Homo sapiens: one gene and its partner. The protein of the gene in region 1 interacts with the protein of each later gene in a biochemical or structural test. Each region holds a gene or a part of one and is shown on either strand. Other genes may lie near its edges. The genes, in order: AHCYL1 and ITPR1.

Region 1 (10,252 bases):
TCAATTTTTTTTTTTTCACTTTTCCTTTCCTAACTCGCCAACCTCCAAATGCTAACTATTAATAGGATCTCCCTGTTACACAATAATGGGGTTTTCTGGGTTTTTTTTTAATATGTAAACCCACTTTCAGCAAACTTGACCTAGGAAAGTCTAGATTTGCAAACATATGATTGTTATAAAATGTTATAAAGACTTTTAGAAACCTATGTTTTATGCAAAGTTAAATACCAGTGCACCACCTCGCTGGAGTACACCCTTTTGTAACTTTCCAGTGTAGCACCTGTTGGTGCAGAGTTGATAGGTATTGCTATCTTGATGAGGCTTGCTCTCCATTCCTGGGTGGCCCTTCTCTTCCTCACCCTGTCTTCCTACACTTCTACACAGGTGTTGATTGAGACACTCTGTGCCCTGGGGGCTCAGTGCCGCTGGTCTGCTTGTAACATCTACTCAACTCAGAATGAAGTAGCTGCAGCACTGGCTGAGGCTGGTAAGTTCGGTTTTTTCCCACCAACTTTGCCCCAAAATAGTTATCCAAACATATAACTTTTTTGTATCAAAATTGTCATTACAATATCATATATGTCTAGAGGCTATAAAATTGTGCATGATAAAAACCTCAACAGGAAGAAAGTGGATAATAAAATTAAGATGGATATCCATGGTGGAATATTATGTAGTCATTAAAAATGGCCTTTGAAAATAATCTAATGGCATGGGGTCATGCCCAGTTCTAGTGTTAGTTGAACGAGGAAGAATGTTAAACTATATAAGTGCCATCAATTTTGTGAGAGAGCACAAGTAAGAAGTACCTTTCATATTGATAGTGCATTAAATAATTTGGTATTCAGTATGGCATTGAAAATATATGAGCTATTTGTGAGTTTAATTAAACGTAAAATAATTTTTTATTATTCAGGCCAGGCCTGGTGGCCCACGCCTATAATCCCAGCACTTTGGGAGGCCGAGGCGGGCAGATCACTTGAGGCCAAGAGTTCAAGAACGGTCTGGCCAACATGGTGAAACCCCACCTCTACTAAAAATACAAAAGTTAGCCGGGAGTGGTGGTGTGCGCCTGTAATCTCAGCTACTCAGGAGGCTGAGGTAGGAGAACCACTTGAACCTGGGAGGCAGAGGCTGCAGTGAGCCGAGATCATGCCACTGCACTGCAGCCTGGGCGACAGAGTGAAACTCCATCTCAAAAATTAATAACAATAATAATAATTTTTATTATTCAAATATTCAGAAGAAAATCACCGTGAAGTTTCTTTGAGGACCTCTCATCTTTCTTTCTTTTTTTTTTTTTCTTAAGATGGAGTCTTACTCTGTTGCCCAGGCTGGAGTGCAATGGCGCAGTCTCGGCTCACTGCAACCCCTGCCTCCTGGGTTCAAGTGATTCTCATGCCTCAGCCTCCTGAGTAGCTGGGATTGCAGTGGCATGCCACCACACCCAGCTAATTTTTGTATTTTTAGTAGAGATGGGGTTTCACCATGTTGGCCAGGCTGGTCTCGAACTCCTGACCTCAAGTGATCTGCCTGCCTTGGCCTCCCAAAGTGCTGGGATTACAGGCGTGAGACACCACACCCAGCCGGACCTCTCATCTTTTTAAGATCCTCAGAAAGCAACTTTATAATACTTTTGGGTTTTTTTGTTTATTCTTTTCTGATAAGTGTTCACTGCAAAAAATTTAGGAAGTTCCCCAAAACCCTACAATCCCACTACATAGAGTATTTGATTAATGTTTTTCCTTTTCCTTTCTTCTACTTTACATAAATTCTAATATGTATACAGTTTTATAACCTAAATACAATATTTTCAGACGTAGTTTTCCATGTCACTGAAAACTTTGACAGCATCATTTGTAATAGTCATTCATATGGCTATGTGATTTCACCTCACTATTTTCCTAATGGAGAACATTTAGGTTGTTTCAAGATGTTTACTAATATCAATAATGCTCCAGTTAACAACTTTTATTAATTCCCACTTCATTTTATCTCCTTCTAAGTATAAAATTAGTCCAGAGAAAGGAACACTTTAAGGTTCCAAACTACTTTTAAAGCAAAAATTCCTTAATTTCTTAACCTAATTAATTTCTGAACCAAAAGTGATTCTTTGACTTTTGGCTCTGAATTTTTTCCCTTCTGAAATTGTTTCTTTTGCCTTTTTCTCTTCACATGGATCTCAGAAAGTGATTTGGTACAGGACACTCCTCAAAGGAGGAATCAGCTGATTCATTTCTGTCTCTACAGGAGTTGCAGTGTTCGCTTGGAAGGGCGAGTCAGAAGATGACTTCTGGTGGTGTATTGACCGCTGTGTGAACATGGATGGGTGGCAGGCCAACATGGTAATAATGCATATACATCCTACACTTTGACAATAGATTTATTTCCTTTTTTTCCCTCAAAGCATGGTTCCCTAAATATGTTTTGGATGTTTGGTCTTATGCACTGACTTTGTTGCTAAAGTGTTTAGCTTGATACCTATTCAGAATGGGTCTGAGTACTGAATGGAAAGGTGGGGGAAGGGTAAGACTAGCTGAACACATGGCTCAAACACACCAGAACAAAATAGTGGTGCTTCTTTGGAGTAGGATTCTGCTTTCTTTCCTTCCTGCCCCAGTTCTCCTTTTGCATTCAAAGGGGCTATATATTTCAAGACTCTAGACTAAAAATGAGTCTGTGATTAGCTTAATACTCATCACTGTAGCCTAAAGCAAACCTAGGAATCCTTTTAACCATTTTACACCAACAAATTTGACTGTATTTCCACTCTCTAAGCCTGCTCTAGGGAGCTCTGAGGAGTACTCTTCCAAAACATACAGGGCTCTCTTACTAGTACAGAAAGTGGGTTCAAAGTTCCCCCCAGCCCTAGCAGCCTGAATGCCCATAGAAGTCTTCTGGCTGTTCTATAGATCCTGGATGATGGGGGAGACTTAACCCACTGGGTTTATAAGAAGTATCCAAACGTGTTTAAGAAGATCCGAGGCATTGTGGAAGAGAGCGTGACTGGTGTTCACAGGTAACAGATTCTGGAGTAGCTGCCCCTTGTGTCCTTGCCTCAGCAAACTCTCCTGGTCTCTGTTAGGCTTTAGGACTGTGTTTCAGACTTATAACTAAATGGGAATATCTTCATTAGATAAAATTTTGAGTTTTTACTTTTGAAAAATCAAGTTGATCCTAGAAGGAAGTTATTTCAGGTTCTAGTTCATACATTTTTCTCTCCCATTTACTCCATTGAGTGATTCTCAACTAGTGTTGAGGGGCGGGTAGGGAATAAATGTATCTTGAAAAACTGTATTCAATATTGTATTATCATTTTATATTTGAAATATGAAAAACAATCCTATTGTAAAACTACATGTTATACACACTACAAAAAGTAAAACTGGGCAAAATATTCTTGGCTTGTTGGAATACTGAAAAGATATCTGAAAGAGTGTTTCTTGGGGGCACATTGCGCATGCTTACTCACACACACACGGAACCATATCAGAATCATTGATAGTCTTTGTTTATCAGAAGTAGGCATGGGTTTCTATTGAAAAATGCTGATCAAAGGAAATAACACTCCCTATAAAGGGAAGAGAAGTACATTTCTTCAATTGAAAGGCTTTTTTTTTTCTTCCAAAAAAGGGGTAAAGGGAGAAGAAAATGAAAAGAAGTGTGGAGGGATGACAAGGAAATAATCATGTTTTCTAATATCCTTGGGCAATAAATGAGACTGGGAAGGGCAGCATGGAACTTGAAGAGAATTAGGCAGATTTTGCCACAAATTATGTTGTGCCAGCTAACTTGGTTTTTGTTTGTTTTTGTGACCTCTTCTCTCTTTAGGCTGTATCAGCTCTCCAAAGCTGGGAAGCTCTGTGTTCCGGCCATGAACGTCAATGATTCTGTTACCAAACAGAAGTTTGATAACTTGTACTGCTGCCGAGAATCCATTTTGGATGGGTAGGTTGAATGTATATATATTCAAACTTCTAGGGGCTCTGGTCTTCCTTTGGCTTTAAAAGTTTATTAGAGGGACCATTTCATACTGAGCTCAACCAGCTTCCAATTGATATTCTCATGGGCATTGGCCCACACTTTTAACTTTGTGAAGAGGGACTGAGTTTGAGCTATTAACGTTTGAGTTGAGCCCTTGTCTGTTTCCACAGCCTGAAGAGGACCACAGATGTGATGTTTGGTGGGAAACAAGTGGTGGTGTGTGGCTATGGTGAGGTAAATAGCTGGGTCTCAGTGTCTCTTTCTTTTTGTGTACTTATTAGAAATATTGGGTAAAGGAGGCTTGTGCTGTCAATCTAGAGTCACTGATACAAGGTTTAAATTTTTTTAGATAATGTATCTCAAACAATAGCAAAAGCCTTTTATTCAGATTTATGAATAGAAACATACAAAATGAATTGAGTTTTCAGATTTTACCATTTTGCCTTGTGGAATAGATACTAGTATCATCTTCCCCAATTATAACAATAACCTTTAATGAGACTTAATTCAAGTGAATATATAGCATTTTAGCCCCACAAGTGACTTGCAGTAGAATTAAGGGTGGAATCTGAAATGGCATATAGTTGAATATCTCCAAACTGGAATAGGTCACATATTTTGTTGTCTTCAGCAATGACCCAAAGAAGTTCCTGAGCTACGAGGGTATCCTTGAGTAGATTCTTCTCAAGTAAGAGAATAGGAAATTAGAGGTTGCTTAGAGTAAGTTGCTTTTGCTTAGTCTTGTTTCCCTGATGAAAACTGCTATGCAAAGCCCCAGTCCTTCCTATGACATGTCTGCTAAATTACCTCTCTAACTGAGGTTCACAACGTAATCTGGGTCTGTTTCTGTTCTGCTTGGGATTGGAGCGTCTGTGCAGCTGCTCACCAGATGACAGGCTATTTCATGAAGGTTAATTCCTGTCTCACAAATAACCTACCTACCCTAAATATCCATGACTTAATGAACCTAACGACTTGACCTTTCTTTTGTTCTGCAGGTAGGCAAGGGCTGCTGTGCTGCTCTCAAAGCTCTTGGAGCAATTGTCTACATTACCGAAATCGACCCCATCTGTGCTCTGCAGGCCTGGTAAGAACAGAGTGATAATACTATTAGATTCACTCTAGGTGCTTTATGTTATTGAGAGTTCATAATTGAGTATATTAATCATTTTTGCAGAAATCACCTAGGGGAAGAGAAGGCTAGGACTGCTCTGTTCTTCTCACTCTAACCCTAGGGCTCTCTGAGAGCCTCTTGGCATTTTTCCTTCCTAGAGGGAGTCTTGGGGACTCTGAAGAGGCCAGTGTATATAGTTTAGCAGAGCTTATCACTCACCATTCCTGTGAGGTGGCACTGGATCCAACTAGAAGGGGATCTTGTCTCATTTCATGACCATCTTCCCTCCCACTGCCTTCTTGCTTTACTCATAGTGTTCCTTTCTTTTCTTCCAGCATGGATGGGTTCAGGGTGGTAAAGCTAAATGAAGTCATCCGGCAAGTCGATGTCGTAATAACTTGCACAGGTAAATAACTTGCATAGAGAAGTGTTTATTCAGAGGCTAAATCTTGAAAGTAGTCTGAGTGACTTTCATACAAAGGAGGTGAGACCTCTGTTCAGTATAAAGGTCTCAGAACTAGAATAAGCTATCAGAACCTTAACATGTTTTCCAGAGTAAAAAACTTTTTTCCCTGGTGACTTTTTATACTGCTTGATCTGAAGACCAGATAGCCTAAGGAGCGGTTATGCATGTCTTCTCTCAGAATGTCTACATGTTCTTTAATGCCAGCAAGCCTCTGGTCTCCTATGTTCTACCTGAAAGCCAGCCAGTACCTTTGTTGCCCGGCATCTCTTTCCTTAACCACCCATCTTTTCTTTTAGGAAATAAGAATGTAGTGACACGGGAGCACTTGGATCGCATGAAAAACAGTTGTATCGTATGCAATATGGGCCACTCCAACACAGAAATCGATGTGGTAAGGCTTCTCTCATTTGTTGCTAGGCATTTCTCTACTACCTTTCATTAATAACCATAGTCAACTGTGCTTTCTTCCTTTCAGACCAGCCTCCGCACTCCGGAGCTGACGTGGGAGCGAGTACGTTCTCAGGTGGACCATGTCATCTGGCCAGATGGCAAACGAGTTGTCCTCCTGGCAGAGGTACACACAGAGAAGGACCCTGGCAGAGCAGCACAAGCAGAGTAGTTAGATCTATGAGGGGGGAGGGGAGGGAAACAAATATTAGGCCTATGTTTCCCTGAATTTTATCTTTGGAGAGAGAGATATTTCACAAATTGGTCCCCAAAATAAAACCACTTTAAAAAAATCTACTTTTTACTAAGTAACACTATTTCCTAACCACAGCTGATTCTTTAACCTTTCAGACTCAGATGGATTTGCAGAAAATAGGAAAAAGCCTAGAGTCCTGATCTGGAACTGTAATTCTTCCTCTTCCAACTGAGTCTAGAGGGGTGTAAAGTCCTCTCCCGCTTTGGCTTGACTTGTATGCCATTGGAATCTGAGACAGAGCTCATCCCAGGGCTCTCTCTTACCTTTCCAGGGTCGTCTACTCAATTTGAGCTGCTCCACAGTTCCCACCTTTGTTCTGTCCATCACAGCCACAACACAGGTATGTGGCAAAATGCCTGCTTACACTGCACTGCAATTTGTGGAACTGGGCGTAGATCAGTTCCAGTGAGGGTGTACTGTACTATGTTCTCATCATCCTATTCTTTTTTGATGTAATAAATTGTGGAAACAGGTATTCTTAAGTATAGAAAAGAGTCACTAAGTCAGTATTCGTTGAATTGGCTGTTTTAGTTGAGAATATAATGTTCCAGCTTAGTTTTATTTGATTTGTTCTTTCGTTAGGAACTAAACAAAAACAACAAATCCTCTTAGGATGTGTGCTGCCCTTTAGTATAGGCAAAGTCCTAGGTACTGTGACTGTGGTAGATCACTGTAGTACTTACCCAAATGCTGTTTAACCTGGTTTTATTTTTATGTGCCTGTCTAAGAAATATTTTTGTGCTTTCTGGCCTTCTTTTCCCACCTTAGGCTTTGGCACTGATAGAACTCTATAATGCACCCGAGGGGCGATACAAGCAGGATGTGTACTTGCTTCCTAAGAAAATGGGTGAGTGAAAAACAGTGGAAATCTATGCAGACAGCTGCATAGTTTGGTAAAATGACTGCCATGAAAGGCATTGGATTTAGAGTCAGAGTTCCAATTCCTGTTCCTGTGCTTACTGGTTGTTTGACCTCAGGACAAGTTCTAATCTCTATGATCCTCAGTTTCTTGATTGGTAAAATGAAAATAATACTACATACATTGTAGAATTGTGTGAGAATCACAGCTAATGAGTAACAGTGCTTAACACAATGGTTTAGGGAGATGTTCTTACTCTAAGTAGCCTTATGAAGTTCAGTAAACTTCCCAGTGCAGCTGAGTACATACAGCCTTGGAACAAAATGAGAGAAACAAACACAGGTTTTATTGTCCATTTTCTGTGAGGATATGCAAACCATCCAATCTCTTGTAAGCAACCCATGCTGTGTTCATGTGACATAATACATCATCTCTAGTCCTTTGCCTTTCTGCACGGTGTACCCATCTCCCATATCTCCTTGGCTAGCCCAAATCCCTGACTTCTTAATGCTAAAATACTTCTTGCTCTCCTCTCCTCCAATAGCTTACTTCAGACTTTTTTTTCAGTGTATAATTATAAAAGGGAAGCTTATCTATGGAAAAGTAAAAATTCTGTGCCGACTACCTTAGAAATTCATGATCCTAAGATCCATGGATCTTATCCTAAATGAGTGTTATTGACACAGGGTCTTTCTAGCTTACTGGTGTCCACTTTGATTGCTAATTTGACTATAATCTAGTTAAGGAGGTTGCTGCAGGAAGGTAGGAGTAGCATGTGACATGTGGGCCACTGCAGGGAAGCCCCCTGCTTTGCCAGAGAAGGATAGAGAGGTAAAAGCCCACTCCCTTTTGTTACCCTGGTAAGTGGCTTTTCTGAACGCACTGTACATGTGCTGAGAGAAGCATCCTGCCCAGAAAGGCAGCTTTGAGGTTTTTTTTTTAATTAAGCAAATATTTCAAGTTGTGGATTCTTTCAGAGTTATTCCATCCCTTGTCTGCTTTCTTAAAAAAGCTTCAAATGAAAATGGGAAGTTATAACTTGAGAGACATTTTGAAAAGGAGTCTGCTCTCCTGCCACTTTGCTCTTCCTAGATGAATACGTTGCCAGCTTGCATCTGCCATCATTTGATGCCCACCTTACAGAGCTGACAGATGACCAAGCAAAATATCTGGGACTCAACAAAAATGGGCCATTCAAACCTAATTATTACAGGTAACCTGGGGAGAAGCAAGTGAAAAGCTCTTTTTCCCAGTATTAAACCAAGCAGGCTAGCCTGCTTCTGACATAAAGATCAAATGTTGTACCTGATTTTGAAGAATACAAGAAATCTGTTCCAGGCCAGGCACGGTGGCTCACGCCTGTAATCCCAGCACTTTGAGAGGCCTAGGCGGATGGATCACTTGAGGTCAGGAGTTCAAGACCAGCCTGGCCAACATGGCGAAACCCTATCTCTTAGCCGGGTGTGGTGGCGGGCACCTGTCATCCCAGTTACTCAGGTGGCTGAGGCACGAGAATCACTTGAACCTGGGAGGCGGAGGTTGCAGTGAGCTGGGATCATGCCACTGCACTCCAGCCTGGGTGATGGAGTGAGACTCTGTCTTAAAAACAAACAAACAAACAAAAAAACTGTTCCAGTTAACAAGGTAGATAGAGAAATTGTGGGAGATATCAGGGAGTTAGGGTTTTTTTGAAATTTTGGAGCCTGGGCCTCACCCTAAGAGATTCTGATATATTTGGTCTGCGATGGGACCAAATTTACAAAACATTATTTTGTAAAACCTCCCCAGATTATTGTAATGTTTAGTCAGGGTTGAAAAAACACTGACTCATTCCTGGGAACAGGCGGTAACACCAGAAATGGCATTGTCAGAGACCCTGTGGAAGAATAAGGGAGACTGGTGCCCTGGGGAATGACTGCAGGGATCCCACCCAGGCTGGGGAGGGGCCCTGGAGAAGGTGCTCTGTTTCCGATTGTTTTTTGGAATTCTCATATGGAAGACATAAGTGTTAACCAATCACTCTCTCTCTTTACAGATACTAATGGACCATACTACCAAGGACCAGTCCACCTGAACCACACACTCTAAAGAAATATTTTTTAAGATAACTTTTATTTTCTTCTTACTCCTTTCCTCTTGATTTTTTTCCTATAATTTCATTCTTGTTTTTTCATCTCATTATCCAAGTTCTGCAGACCACACAGGAACTTGCTTCATGGCTCTTTAGATGAAATAGAAGTTCAGGGTTCCTCACTCTAGTCACTAAAGAAGGATTTTACTCTCCCAGCCCAGAAAGGTGATTCTTTCTTTACCATTTCTGGGGACTTTAGTCTTAATTAGGTACCTTATTAACAGGAAATGCTAAGGTACCTTCTCTGTGGAACAATCTGCAATGTCTAAATCGCCTTAAAAGAGCCCATTTCTTAGCTGCTGAAATCAGTGCTCTTTCACTTCTTCAGAGAAGCAGGGATGGTACCTACCCGGCAGGTAGGTTAGATGTGGGTGGTGCATGTTAATTTCCCTTAGAAGTTCCAAGCCCTGTTTCCTGCGTAAAGGTGGTATGTCCAGTTCAGAGATGTGTATAATGAGCATGGCTTGTTAAGATCAGGAGGCCCACTTGGATTTATAGTATAGCCCTTCCTCCACTCCCACCAGACTTGCTCATTTTTCGAGTTTTTAACTAGACTACACTCTATTGAGTTTAATTTTGTCCTCTAGGATTTATTTCTGTTGTCCAAAAAAAAAAAAAAAGAAAAGAAAAATTAAGGAGAATTTTTGGTGTTAATGCTGAGGAATTGCTTGAGTGGTTAGTTGTTACCAATTTCTCTTTTGAACCTTTGGAGCTAAGGATGCTGAGTCTAGAGAAATGCTAGTCTCAAGCCCTGTTAAGTCCCTCTGTTTCTAGCCCGTAGTTCATAGCATCAGTGAACTGGAGCCACAACAGCAAATTCTATCAGCTGTGTACCATACAGCTTGTGCTGAAGGCGAATTTCTTGAGCCATTACTCAGTATAAAGCACTGAGTTCTATCTTTAGGATTTATCTTTAAGAGCAAATTTCTGGTCAGCTGTGCTTCTGCAACCTAAAATATTTAAAGGGAGGTAGGTGTGGGCAGGAGGAGGAATGA
Region 2 (13,217 bases), on another chromosome or scaffold:
TATTCTTTTAGTTATTTTAAAATGTACAATTAAATTATTGACTGTAATTACCCCATTTACCTACAAACAGTAGGTCTTATTCATTCTGTAATTACCCAATTTACCTACAAACAGTAGGTCTTATTCGTTCTTTCTATTTTTTTTTTTTTTTTTTTTACCTGTTAACATCCCCACCTCCCCCCTGCCCTCCCACTATCTTTCCCAGCCTCTGGTAACCATCCTTCTACTCTGTGTCCATGAGTTCAATTGTTTTGATTTTTAGATCCTACAAATAAGTGAGAAGATGCGATGTTTGTCTTTCTGTGCTTGGCTTATTTCACTTAGCATTATGACCTCCTCCAGTTCCATCCATGTTGTTGCAAATGACTGGATCTCACTCTTTTCATTCCCTTTTTCTTTTTTTTTTTAAGATGGAGTCTCGCTCTGTCACCCAGGCTGGAGGGCAGTGGCGAGATCTCAGCTCACTGCAACCTCCGCCTCCCGGGTTCAAGCAATTGTTCTGCCTCAGGCTCCCCAGTAGCTGCGACTACAGGCACGTGCCACCACACCCAGCTAATTTTTGTGTTTTTAATAGAGACGGGGTTTCACCATATTGGCCAGGCTGGTCTTGAACTCCTGACCTCGTGATCTGTCCGCCTTTGCCTCCCAAAGTGCTGGGATTACAGGCGTGAGCCACCGCGCTCGGCCTCATTCACTTTTTAGCACCTCTTGCTTATCAGTTAAACACTCCCCTCCCTCAGTATAATCAGTAAGAGTCTTGCAAGTTCAGTTGTTGGTTGAGCGTTTTTATTATAGATTAGTGAATTCTATTGATTGTATCTCATTCACACAGATCTGCTCCTCTTTCGTACACCCTCTCCCCATTTCTTTCCCCTTCTCTTGTCCTTCTAATTAAGACCCATATTTTCAGTTGAAGCGGGAAGCAATTTACAATGTGGGTGTCACAAATGATTACAATGGAGCACGGACACAGTTGCTGTAAAAACACCTACTACCACCCTTGAAAATAACCCGCATTTTCTGGAGCCTGCTCAAGGGCTCAGGTAGTGAGCAATGGAAGCACTTCCGTTAATTATCTCATTTAATCCGCAGGACAGCCCTCAGAAGTGACACATTATCCTTTTCTGTAGACGAGCATCAATTAAAGCACAGTGAAATTAGTAATTTCCCCAAATGAACGCTCCATAGCAGAACTCCGCTAATAAGATCCTAACTGGGCTTCCAACACACGTAGCCAAACATCAGGGCGTTGCCTCTCACCACTGTGGTTCCCCTGTGTCTCCACCACACCTTCCTTATGTGAGCTGCTTTCTTGTCTTGTTCCTTCTTCTCATCTTTGCCTCATCACCTCTTCCTTGACCACAGCCACTCCTGTCTTTCCTTCTTGTTTCCTCTTCCTTCTTTCTGGCATGTGGCTTTCTGGTGATGCCATAAACATTGGCATCAAGACTTAGAATGCTGCTGACATGTCTTGGTAAAGGTATGTTGGACCTGTGCACTTAAGGAAGAATTGGGGTCCAGGAGCCTAACCTCTGCTCTATCTACAGAAAATGTTTTGTTTCTGTTTCTGTTTAGATTCTTAGATTACCTCTCCGACCTCTGTGTCTCCATGAACAAATCAATTCCAGTGACCCAGGAACTGATATGTAAAGCTGTGCTGAACCCCACCAACGCTGACATCCTGATTGAGACCAAGTGAGTGGGGAGCCAGGGTTTAGATGGAAAACATGGGGTTCATTCAGTGTTGGTGCTCATGAGGAATAAAACCTAGCCCTATCATTTTTTGAGTTGATCTAAAGTCAGTGTGGCTGGCATTTGATCTTCTTATTGGAAAAGTCTTGATTAGGAGAATTCCCGAATTTGATTTTGGTGTCACCTCCTCTTCATAGTGGTGTCACTTATTTTGCATACAAGTTTAGAAGTCATGTAAACTCACCGGGGAGCATTTTATACAGCTACATTTTAAGAGTTTAAAACTCTTTGTAAGTGTGACCATCAATTTAAAATTTCAAATGACATAATGAATATTCAGTGTTAAGATTAAGTCAGTGTTGGGAGGAGTTTTAAATTATTACTGTTCAGAACATGTTTATTGGTCTGCAGAATTTTTGTTACCAGTAGTAATTCATTTTTGGCAAAGGAGCAGTTTTCCTGAGAAGTACAGTGCCGGTAATATGGACAGCCTTAAAAAACATACTAAATTACGTCCTGAGCTAGTGATACTTCATTGATTCACATGTATAACTCAGTTTTGGGCTTGGGCTAATGCAGGGTTTTTCAGTTTAGGTATTTTCACATTTCGGGCTTGGTAATTCTTTGTTGTGGGGCTGTGCTAGGCACTGTAAAATGTTCAGCAGCATCCCTGGCCCCTACCCACTTAGATGCCAGTAGCACCTCTCCATTTCGGTTGTGACAACCAAAAACCTGTCCAGAGACATTGCCTGGTGTCCACTGGGGGCAGCAGCACCATAGTCGAGAACCACTGGGTTACAGTATATGAAGATGTTAATGTCAGGCTCTCTGCGGCTCTGCCCTTGGGGGAAATACAAAACAAAAAGTGTCTTTCCATGTGTCTTTATGCTGAAAGTAAAGCTAGATCTCAAAGTATTTTTAAAAATAGTAACTTTTCCCTCCTCCTCTTGTTTTCTAGGTTGGTTCTTTCTCGTTTTGAATTTGAAGGTGTCTCTTCCACTGGAGAGAATGCTCTGGAGGCAGGAGAAGACGAGGAAGAGGTGTGGCTGTTTTGGAGGGACAGCAACAAAGAGATTCGCAGCAAGAGTGTGAGGGAATTGGCTCAGGATGCTAAAGAAGGGCAGAAGGAGGACCGAGACGTTCTCAGCTACTACAGGTGCGTGGGACACGTGTGGGGCTCAGATTGGGGTGCCCCAAAACAGTGGCACTTAGGAATTTGTTGCTCGTTTGTTGATTACTTCAAGGAATCACAAGGAGTCATCTTGTAAGATTGTCTAGAAAAAAGCCAGATGTGTGTTTTAGGAGTTTGGAGTGTAAGATTTCAGTTAGTTGACATCTGGATGTGGCTGGTTCCCAAAAAGGATGAGTGCTTGCCTCAGTCCCTGGTGATAGTTTATCCTTCAGCAGCATGGCCCATAGATATGGTGGTAGGTACGTAAGAGGCAGGCTGTGGGGTCACATCCCTACCTCTCCGCTTACCAGTTTTTTGACATTGGCCAAGTTTGATTTTATGCTCTAATTTCTTTATCTGCAAAATGAAGGTGATAGTGCCAATCTCACCAAATGTTTATAGACAGAGACAGAAGATGTGTGTGTTTGTATACACATATATCTACACATTCATCCATGTATCTTTCTATAACTACACAAATATATAATAAAAAGCATGTACTTACACTAATACTTCCAATTCCATTCCAACACCATAGGATTTATTCTAGCCTTCACCTTTTCCATTTCATGACTCCCTCCAGCTGCCACGATTCCCTGTATGTTTACCCATCTGCCCGTTTCCCTGTGTGTACCTGTCTCACCTCTGCCACCCACCTCCACGGTCCCCAGTGTCTCCTTGGCTCCAGCTGTAAGACCTGCCAGTCCTGCCACCTGAAGGGAAGGGAAGGGGAAGAAAGAAAGGAAGTGAACCAATTAATACTTTTAAAAGAAAAGGAAAGGGAAGATAAAGCAAGGCTTTTATTATTTTTTAATAAAATAAATAAAACTGCAGATAAAATGCCTTTTCTTGCCTCCTGTATTCTGTTCTTTCATTCATGTGTGATGTACGCATCCTATCCACATTCTCTGTGTGCTGCATTTGTATGCATCTGTAAATCATATGTAGTATTTTATCTCTACTTAAAATTTTATATAAATGGGACTGTACTCCAAATACCATTCTAAAACTTGCCTTATTTATTCAATACGGGTACTGAAGCCATATTGAATATATCTGCGTTAATAGAGATTAATCCATTTCTGTAATTTGGACTGTTGGATGATATTCTGTTTTATTGATTTATCACATTTTCATCGCTGTTTGATATTTGATCACATGCTGCAGTTCTTCATGTCAGGAAACATCTTCATTCAAATTTTTCTGAGTATATGTATGAATTTCCATTCCACACTGGGAGGTGGGCTTGGAGGATATTCATATTTTAAGCTTTACTAAGCAATTCTAAATTGGATGTGTCAGTGTACACACCCACCAGTTGTAGACGACAAGCTTTGTTTCTTCATGTCTTTGTTAACCTTGAATATCATGATGCTTTTTAATTTTTGGTAATTTTATAAGTGTGAAATAGACTCATGTCTACACTTGCATTTCCCCGACATCTAATGAGGCTGAGAATGTCTTCAAATCATGATTATTAGAAATACATAGAGTTTTTAATTCAGAAGGCAGTATTTTGAAAGCCTGTGGCTTTCTCGTTATTTCACATTTCAAGTATGTTTACTCTTTCAGTGTTTGATGAATCTTCTCCCAAGTGAATGAGAAAGAGTGCCTTAATTGGTCAGGTTCCAGTTAACAACATTCACTTGCAATTGGATGAAGATGAAAAGTGAGGAGTCTCCTACTTTTGTAAATGAAATGTTTTTTTACACGTGTAGGAATTAGAGTGACTTACATGATATAAGATCTTTAAAATGTTATAAAATTTCTAATTAGGCTGAATATGTGTGATATCTTGAACATTTCCTACATGGTCTTTACTGTATAAAACACAGCTGAAGGGAAAGAAATAGACAACCATCTTAGGCCTTAGCATTCCCCCCGTTTATTTTAAAAAGTAAACATTAAGGACCTAGTGGAATTAGGTCGTCACATAATTGCTCCAACACAGCTGGATAGACATGTGTTCCTGTTGGCTGTCAACCCACACTCTACTGCACAGCTTGAATAGTTCTTTTATCTGCTTGGTACCAAAGCCAAAATCCTGGTATACAAGAGCAATTTAGGGGTGTTGATGTATGAGTTTAGTTGGCCAAATGTCACTCCCATGACAGTCAGGGCTGCCCAGACGACCCTTCATTCATCCTGAATGATTTCTGGAGCGTGAGCTGTGTGCCCTTGTTCCTTCCTCTAGATATCAGCTGAACCTCTTTGCGAGGATGTGTCTGGACCGCCAATACCTGGCCATCAACGAAATCTCAGGCCAGCTGGATGTCGATCTCATTCTCCGCTGCATGTCTGACGAGAACCTGCCCTATGACCTCAGGGCGTCCTTCTGCCGCCTCATGCTTCACATGCATGTGGACCGAGATCCCCAGGAACAAGTCACCCCCGTGAAATATGCCCGCCTCTGGTCGGAGATTCCCTCGGAGATCGCCATTGACGAGTGAGCCTGGCACCTGAAAACCTCACTTTACATTATTCTGTGCGGCAGTAGATAGCCCCATATGGTCTCATTAAATCTTAGAAGAAAGATGAAGTGTTGGTTTTTTCTTCAAGCTTAAAATAAAATTAAGTGGATGGCAAATATTTTTTTCCTCAAGAATGTGAAAGATGGCATGATTATGTTTTTGGTTTTTGTTTGTTTGTTTGTTTGTTTGAGATGGAGTCTCACTCTGTTGCCCAGGCTGAACTGCAGTGGCGCAATCTCGGCTCACTACAAGCTCTGCCTCCCGGGTTCGTGCCATTCTCCTTCCTCAGCCTCCCAAGTAGCTGGGACTACAGACGCCCACCACCACGCCCGGCTAATTTTTTGTATTTTTAGTAGGGACGGGGTTTCACCGTGTTAGCTAGGACGGTCTCGATCTCCTGACCTTGTGAGCCGTCCACCTCGGCCTCCCAAAGTGCTGGGATTACAGGCGTGAGCCACCGCGCCTGGCCCCGATTGTATTTTTTATATCTCATTTATCTCCTCTTTCATTCTGCAAATATTTAAGTGTGTACTATGTGCCAAGCTCAAGAAATATATCAGTGAACAAACTAGAAAGCAATCTCTATGCTAGTTGGTGGAAGACAGACAATAGGCAAGATAAACGACTCAAATATATAGTTGGTGATATATGCTAAGGAGGGAAAAAATAAAGTAGGGTCAAGGGATGCCAAGGGTTAGGGGATGTTGACTTTTGAAGCTGAGTGACCCAGGAAGACCTCTCTGGGAATAACTTGAAATTTTGTTTCCTTTCTTTCTCCTTTCTTTTCAGCTATGATAGTAGTGGAGCTTCCAAAGATGAAATTAAGGAGAGATTTGCTCAGACCATGGAGTTTGTGGAGGAGTATTTAAGAGATGTGGTTTGTCAGAGGTTCCCTTTCTCTGATAAAGAGAAGAATAAGCTTACGTTTGAGGTAACTCATGATGAAATCTTCTATGTGTATTATCTGCCTCTCAGTGGTCATTTTTCTATGGGGCAAATAGAAAATATGTGAGTAGGTTGTGATTTTGGTCATGATGCTCTGGTTTTGTAATGGAAAGGAATTCAGCTTGGTTTTGTTCCAGAATAAAATAAAACGGATACCAGTCACATGGCTTAATAGTAGTTATGGGCTTAAAAGAAATATACAAGGTGACTTGAACCACATAAAATGATAGAACATCACTTTGTGTTAAAACTGACAAGAGAGAAACACTGTGCTTGCAATCTGCCATAGCTTAATCATTTGCAGAACATAAATCCTTGTTACTTCTGAGTTAACAACGTTTCTGAGACTGCTTTTGCCTTTTAAGAGCTGTATTGCTGAGGATCGCAGAGTGTTATTATCTGTGTCCTTATTGGGAATAACTCTGCTTGCCTGGTGTTAATATTATCCTTGGGAAGCTGTGTAGAGCAAATGATGAGGTCTTTTTTTTTTTTTGATTAGTCATCAGAGCAGATCAGTAGCTTTCCATTTCTTATTTTTCCTCCTTATGAAACAAAATGAAAATTTATCAGAAAGTGCAAGGAAAATACATGCCTTCTCTTACCATAAGGAAGGTCCAAGTCTGTCATTTCTAAACTGGTCAACATCAAATGGAATTGAAGGGGATGCAGTTTATGTAATACCGTCTTCTTCTTTTATTTTAATACAATAGGTTGTAAATTTAGCTAGGAATCTCATATACTTTGGTTTCTACAACTTCTCTGACCTTCTACGATTAACTAAGATCCTTCTGGCCATATTGGACTGTGTACATGTGACAACAATCTTCCCCATTAGCAAGATGGCGAAAGGAGAAGAGAATAAAGGTAACAATGATGTGGAGAAGCTGAAGAGTGAGTATCTGAGGGTGCCCATACATCTGAGAGATGCCCTCCAGCCTTTCCTGTTATGCTCATGTCATACCCTATATGTGATGCCACATCCTTTCTTTGTTCATTCCTTCCCAACTTTTCATCGTGAACATTTTCAAATACTGTGTAAAGAAAAGCGGAAAGAACAGTACGATGGAGTCCCACGTACCCATGACTTTGAGTCAACAGTTATTCACGTTTTGCTGAATTTTATTTTGTATTTATGTGTATTTATGTGTATTTTATTTTGTATTTATGTGTTTATGTATGAGTCGTGTGTATATTTTGTTGAACAATTTGAAAGTTACTTAACACTTTGAATGTTTATATAACAAATACATGTCCTATCATTGTTCTTGACATTCGTGAGACCCTTGATAATAATATTTGTTTAGGATGTAAGAAAATCCAGGCTTCTATCTTGGTGGCTATTTCCACTTTGTGAGAAGGACAATCTGCCTTTGCATGTTTATTTCTTCCTCGTTTTAGGGTCAGAGTAGGCAGATATTGGTATCATGTATCAATTATTGTTAACTGGTCTTCTGCAGCTAGAACAGAAAGAAATACATTGACTTATCTCTATTTGCTAGGTCTTGTGCTGAGTCATGTTGCATTATACCATTTAGTTCTTTTGTTGAGCTCCTTTATTTCCATTTTGTAGATGAGGAGACTGAGGCTTAGAGGTAGTATGGTGCACCTAAGGTCAAGCAGCATCAGGATTTGTACCTTGTTAACTTTATGTACCTAGTTCTGTGCTCATAACAAGCACATAGTTGATGATCAATAAAATTTGGGCAGGGCATAGTGATTCATACCTGTAATACTAACATTTTGGGAGGCTGTAGCAGGAGGATTGCTTGAGGCCAGGAGTTCGAGACCAGGCTGGGCAATATAGAGAGAACCTATCTCTACCAAAAAAAAAAAAAAAATTAGCTGGGTGTGGTGATGCATGCCTATAGTCCTAGCTACTTGAGACGTTGAGGCAGGAAGATTGTTTGAGCCCAGAAGTTTGAGGCCACAGGGAACCATCATTGTGTCACTGCACTCCAGCCTAGGTGATAGAGGAAGATCCTGTCTCTAAAGAAAATTAAAAAAAATAAAATTTGATGGGCAAGTTAGTGCACAGAAATGCCCCTCTGGGGATTTTGAAGCCCGTGATCTTTCTGTTGCTCTCAGAAGCCCAGATTTTTGATGTGCATTTACCTTTCCAGGTTTCCAGGGTCCTGAGATTATGTTGGAATAGGGATATGTTAAATAATTTCTCTCAAAGAGCCCCTGCCCCTTGACATATGCCTCTGAGCATTCTCTAGAGACATTGTGACCGTGGTCTCTCCTGGCCTTTCCTAGGCAGTAACGTGATGAGATCTATTCATGGCGTGGGAGAGCTGATGACCCAGGTGGTGCTCCGGGGAGGAGGCTTTTTGCCCATGACTCCCATGGCTGCTGCCCCTGAAGGCAATGTGAAGCAGGCAGAGCCTGAGAAGGAGGACATCATGGTCATGGACACCAAGCTGAAGATCATTGAGATACTCCAGGTATCCACTAGCTGGAGCTGGGGTAGGGAGGGTATGTCACAGAGGCGCCATTCAGATCCAGTCCCTCTGTTCTGATGGAGCCCAAGGCTTTCTGGGAAGAAAATGGGGGCAAATCCTTAGCTCATCCCTCCGTGTCATTTATGAGCTGGCTCCTCTTAATCCCTTTACTGCTTTCTCCTACCCTCCCAACATGGCCATGTCCCTCCAGCCATGTCAAGACTTGCCATTGTTATCTTAGCTTTCCATGATCATTGGCCTCCATGCCAACCCTCTGCCTAGAATTCACTTACCTCTGTGTCTCCATGTAGCTGCATCTCTGCTTATTGATCATAACTAGGTTCAGGGTTCCATCAACTTTGCAAAGCCTTCCTCCCTTCTTCCCTTTTTCATTCAATCAACAAATATTTATTGAGACCAACTCTGTGCCAAGTCCCCTTAAGCACTGGGAGGGTCCAGCAATGAAAAAAATAGATGAAATTCCTGCTTCTCTAGAATTTACATTTTGATAGAGGGGCATGGGCATGTATTAAGAATAAGTGCTAAGAGACGTTAAAAAGTAAAGGAGGGTCAGGATTGTTTGGAGACACTGAGGACAGGGGGCTGGGGTTATTGTGTTTGGTGAGGTTATCAGAGAAGGCCTCTCCAGTACAGTGACATGATTACACACCTGAATGAAGTGAGGAGATAGCCACACAGATATCTTGGGAAAGGGTATCTGAGGCAGAGGGAGCAGCAAACACAAAGACCCCATGGTGAAGAGGGCACATTTGGGAACAGGTGGGGTTCAAGAGGGAATGGGAGAAGATCAAGTCGGGGAGTAAATATATATAGCTTCTTGGACAGATTGCCTGTAAGGATGCACAGAGAAGTGGGGACATGGGCAGAGAGCGATTGTTGGTAACATGGTTTATTTTTGTTGTAATATTTTTTAAGTGGGTGGGTTATAACAAGCTTGTATGGTGAATAGGAATGATCATGTATACAGGGAGAGTTTGTTGCTGTTTGGGGAGAGAATAATTGTAAGAGCAAAGTCCTTCTGTAGGCAAGCGGGGGTGGAATCTAGTATATAGGGAAGGCTTGGTCGTAGGCATGAAACCCTCCCAAGCCTCTCTACAGCTTTGAACCCCACCCGACAACCTGCGCTTCCCTCTTTCTGTGCCGTGTAGGTAACTTTTATTCATCAACAAAATCATCTGCTCCTTAATGGAAAGAATTATGTGTTAGCACCTTCTTTTTTTTTATCCCATGTTGCCTGATCTCAACCCCAACAGATGTAGTAGAAATTCATAAATGTTTAAGATCTGGGGGTTTTATTTTTTAGTCTGAAATCACCCTTTACCAATGCTTTGAAAGTTTTAATGGGTTGTCTCAAAGTCATGTAATTAGGACGATAAAGACAGCTTAAGTAAAGGAGAAATCTTACTGAATTTATGCCTGAGCAACAGTAGAGAAAGATTCCTTTTTTAAAACTTTATTTTTTAATAAATTTTATTTTTACTTTTATTTTCAATTTTTTTTGTCGAGACAAAATATACATATAAAATTTGCAGGCCATGGTCCATGTGTTCCAAAGTGGTGTCTTGGACGTTTATCAGAAACGACGCAGTGCAAAACTTGGTCACATCTTGAGGTCCACTCACCGTGGTGACCTAAGAAGGATTGGTCGATTGAGTCATTCTTTCCACGGGTACTTATTGACTCCCTACCATGTGCACTGTGAGGAATGCAAAAATGATTCGAACAGGGGCTCCATCCACAGGGGTTTATAGTCTGATGGGAGAATAAGGTATGATGAAGCTGCGTGGATGTGGAAATAAAACCACCAGAAAGTTCTTCTGAGACTGGAGTCCGGGAGTGGGGTCATGTGACTCCACATGGTAAAGATCAGAGAAGGGTTGATGGAGGAGGTAGGGTTTCATCTGAGCCTTTAAGGTGCATGGGCTTTGTACATGGAGAAACAAGGGCCCGTTCTCAGGTGGATGGAGCAGCCTGAAGCCGAGTACCATGGGATGCAGGTCAGTGGGCAGTTCTTGCTGAGCAGAGACATAGAGTGTGCTGAGGGGAAGTTGTCAGAAGTGAGTTTGGAAAGGAGGACCAAGCCACACTGCACAGAGCTTTGGGTGTCTAAAATGCTAAGGCTTATTCTCTGTTGAGCCTTTGAAAGTCTTCAAGCGGGAGCTTAACATAAGAACAAGTGGTTAGGAGGCTGATTTGGTGAATTTGGTTCTGTAAATGGAACAGGCAGGAGATAATGAGGCCTTGAGCAGGGAGAAACGGCAGTAGGGGAGAACTCTATGAGAAGCGGTAAATGGAGAACCACCAGGACTTAGTCTCTGATTAGATGTGTGTCCAGGAAGGAGGCGCTGATGATCAGGCAACTGACTGAGGTTGAGGAAACCCAGGCAGAAAGTAGATGAAGGCAAGACTGACAATGTTAGTGTGTTAGCGCTCTCCAGAGAAACAGAACAAATAGGATACATACAGATAGACAAGAGGGGGTTTATTATGGGAATTGGCCTCACGCAGTTACGGAGGCCGAGAAGTCCCCCAGTCTGCCACAGCAAGCTGTGTCCCGGGAAAGCCAGTGGTGTGATTCAGCCTGAGTCCCAAGGCTGAGAACCAGGGGAGCTGAAGGTGTAACTCTCAGTCTGAGGCCAAAAGCCGGAGAACCTGGAGCTCTGATGGGCAGGAGAAGATGAGTGTCCCAGCTCCAGAACAGGTGGATTCGGTCTTCCTCCACCTGTTTGCTCTATCCAGGCCCTCCGTGGATTGGATGGTGCCCACTCACACTGGGTGAGAGCGGATCTTCTTTACTCAGCTCACTGATTCAAATGCCAGTCCATTCTGGAAACCCCCTCATAGATTTACCCGGAAATAAAGTTGTACAAGCTGTCTAGGTGTCCTTGAACCCAGTCAAGTTGGCATATAAAATTAACCATCGCAGTTACTTTTGTGAAACACTGAGTTTGAGGCCCTGGGAAGATAGCAAATAGGATGTCCAACAGTCTGTAGGACACATACACTGAGAGCATGGAGGCAGGCCAGAGACCTATCTCCCTCTGGAAGAGGTGATGGCCACTGGACTGGGAAAGGTTGCTGGGAGGCTAAGCAGAGACAAGGGGAGAACGGAAGGAAGAACGTGAGTGAGATCCCTACATGATGTCAGCTGCTCAATCTTTCTTTTTGGTTCTAGCAGCAATCCTGGGAAAAGTGACCCTGTGTTGGAATAAAGGGTGAGGGAATACAGGAGGCAAAAGAAGAGGGTGTCCAAGGGTTTGTACCCAAACCAGGGGAAACAACCAGAAACAGGAAATAGGAACCAAGCTAATTTTCCATAGTAAAAAACAAATTTTTTTTTGTTAATTCTCTTAAATCCAAAGCAGGCAACTTCACTCTTTTCAGTGTTAGGCCCAGAGTTGACATTCAATACTTACTGAAATGGAGTCTTGTTTTATAGACTCCATTTATGGAGCCAGGAGTGAGTGATTTAGTGTTCCAATTGTTAAATTAATTGCCAGGATGCTGAAGCTTACACTAGAGGCTAAGGTGCTATGGGCAGACTTCATATGCCCCATGGAAGTCTGCTGTTGTTAAAATGACTGTTGAAATCTAAGCCAAATACTTGGCTCACTTAGTGCTTAAGGTAATTGATGCAGCTGATACCAGGCCCCGCCAGTGTGTGGTGGCTTGGCAGAGTCAAGATGGTATGTTAATGTAACCAATCTGTTTCCATTTCCACTTGAATCTTTAGTTTATTTTGAATGTGAGGTTGGATTATAGGATCTCCTGCCTCCTGTGTATATTTAAGCGAGAGTTTGATGAAAGCAATTCCCAGACTTCAGAAACATCCTCCGGAAACAGCAGCCAAGAAGGGCCAAGTAATGTACCAGGTTAGTGATTCAGAATGGAATTTCAGCCATAGAATGGGACCTGGCTCTAAGGAAAATGGGGAGAGCAAACAGTATCTTCTAGAAAAAGGGTGAAAATGGTTTTGAGGATTATTGCACCAGGGCATCATCCTGGCAGTTACTCTTTTTGAGCAAGTGAATAATTGATAGAGCCCAGATTCCTTCTGGGTTGGATCTTGTTTCCTTCCATCTGGGAGTGTCTTAGTGATGAGACAGTTGAGGTTTCCAGCATTGTGGCTACCCACCTCCCCCGCAAAAATACCAAAATAAAAACAGTAACAAAAAACTCTCCAGGAGACTTCTTGACCACTAGCAGCTTTTACTCACTTTGGAAGTTTTTCCCTGCCCAGGAACTAGTGGTGACGGGAGATGGTAGGAGTAGAAATAATCCCATCTACCAAGCCCAAGCTTCCATGAGTGAGATCATTGCTGTCCTTTACCAGGGGACCATGCAGTGAGGGAGGAAGGGGCAGGAATGTGGAATATGTGGTTAATGTCATCTGGGTTAGTCACTCTGCATAGCTTTGCAATATAATGTTCTGGGAGATTTGGGGTTAACTCAACAGCTTTACCCTGCAAAACTTAT

Evidence for each region.
Region 2: the proteins of AHCYL1 (region 1) and ITPR1 form a complex in vitro, tested with the Homo sapiens proteins (one study listed by BioGRID).

What each region holds. Positions count from the first base shown.
Region 1 is NC_000001.11:110,012,513-110,022,764, forward strand, and holds part of AHCYL1 (S-adenosylhomocysteine hydrolase-like protein 1), read left to right. Parts: intron 1-384; coding exon 385-487; intron 488-2,250; coding exon 2,251-2,345; intron 2,346-2,912; coding exon 2,913-3,019; intron 3,020-3,831; coding exon 3,832-3,948; intron 3,949-4,154; coding exon 4,155-4,218; intron 4,219-4,982; coding exon 4,983-5,071; intron 5,072-5,433; coding exon 5,434-5,504; intron 5,505-5,860; coding exon 5,861-5,955; intron 5,956-6,039; coding exon 6,040-6,138; intron 6,139-6,362; coding exon of another isoform or gene 6,363-6,407; exon of another isoform or gene 6,408-6,538; coding exon 6,539-6,607; intron 6,608-7,035; coding exon 7,036-7,114; intron 7,115-8,218; coding exon 8,219-8,339; intron 8,340-9,161; coding exon 9,162-9,168; coding exon of another isoform or gene 9,169-9,214; 3' UTR 9,215-10,252. UniProt on the Homo sapiens protein: Multifaceted cellular regulator which coordinates several essential cellular functions including regulation of epithelial HCO3(-) and fluid secretion, mRNA processing and DNA replication.
Region 2 is NC_000003.12:4,668,079-4,681,295, forward strand, and holds part of ITPR1 (inositol 1,4,5-trisphosphate-gated calcium channel ITPR1), read left to right. Parts: intron 1-1,575; coding exon 1,576-1,695; intron 1,696-2,650; coding exon 2,651-2,848; intron 2,849-5,057; coding exon 5,058-5,309; intron 5,310-6,123; coding exon 6,124-6,265; intron 6,266-6,989; coding exon 6,990-7,170; intron 7,171-8,535; coding exon 8,536-8,723; intron 8,724-12,474; coding exon 12,475-12,613; intron 12,614-13,217. UniProt on the Homo sapiens protein: Inositol 1,4,5-trisphosphate-gated calcium channel that, upon inositol 1,4,5-trisphosphate binding, mediates calcium release from the endoplasmic reticulum (ER).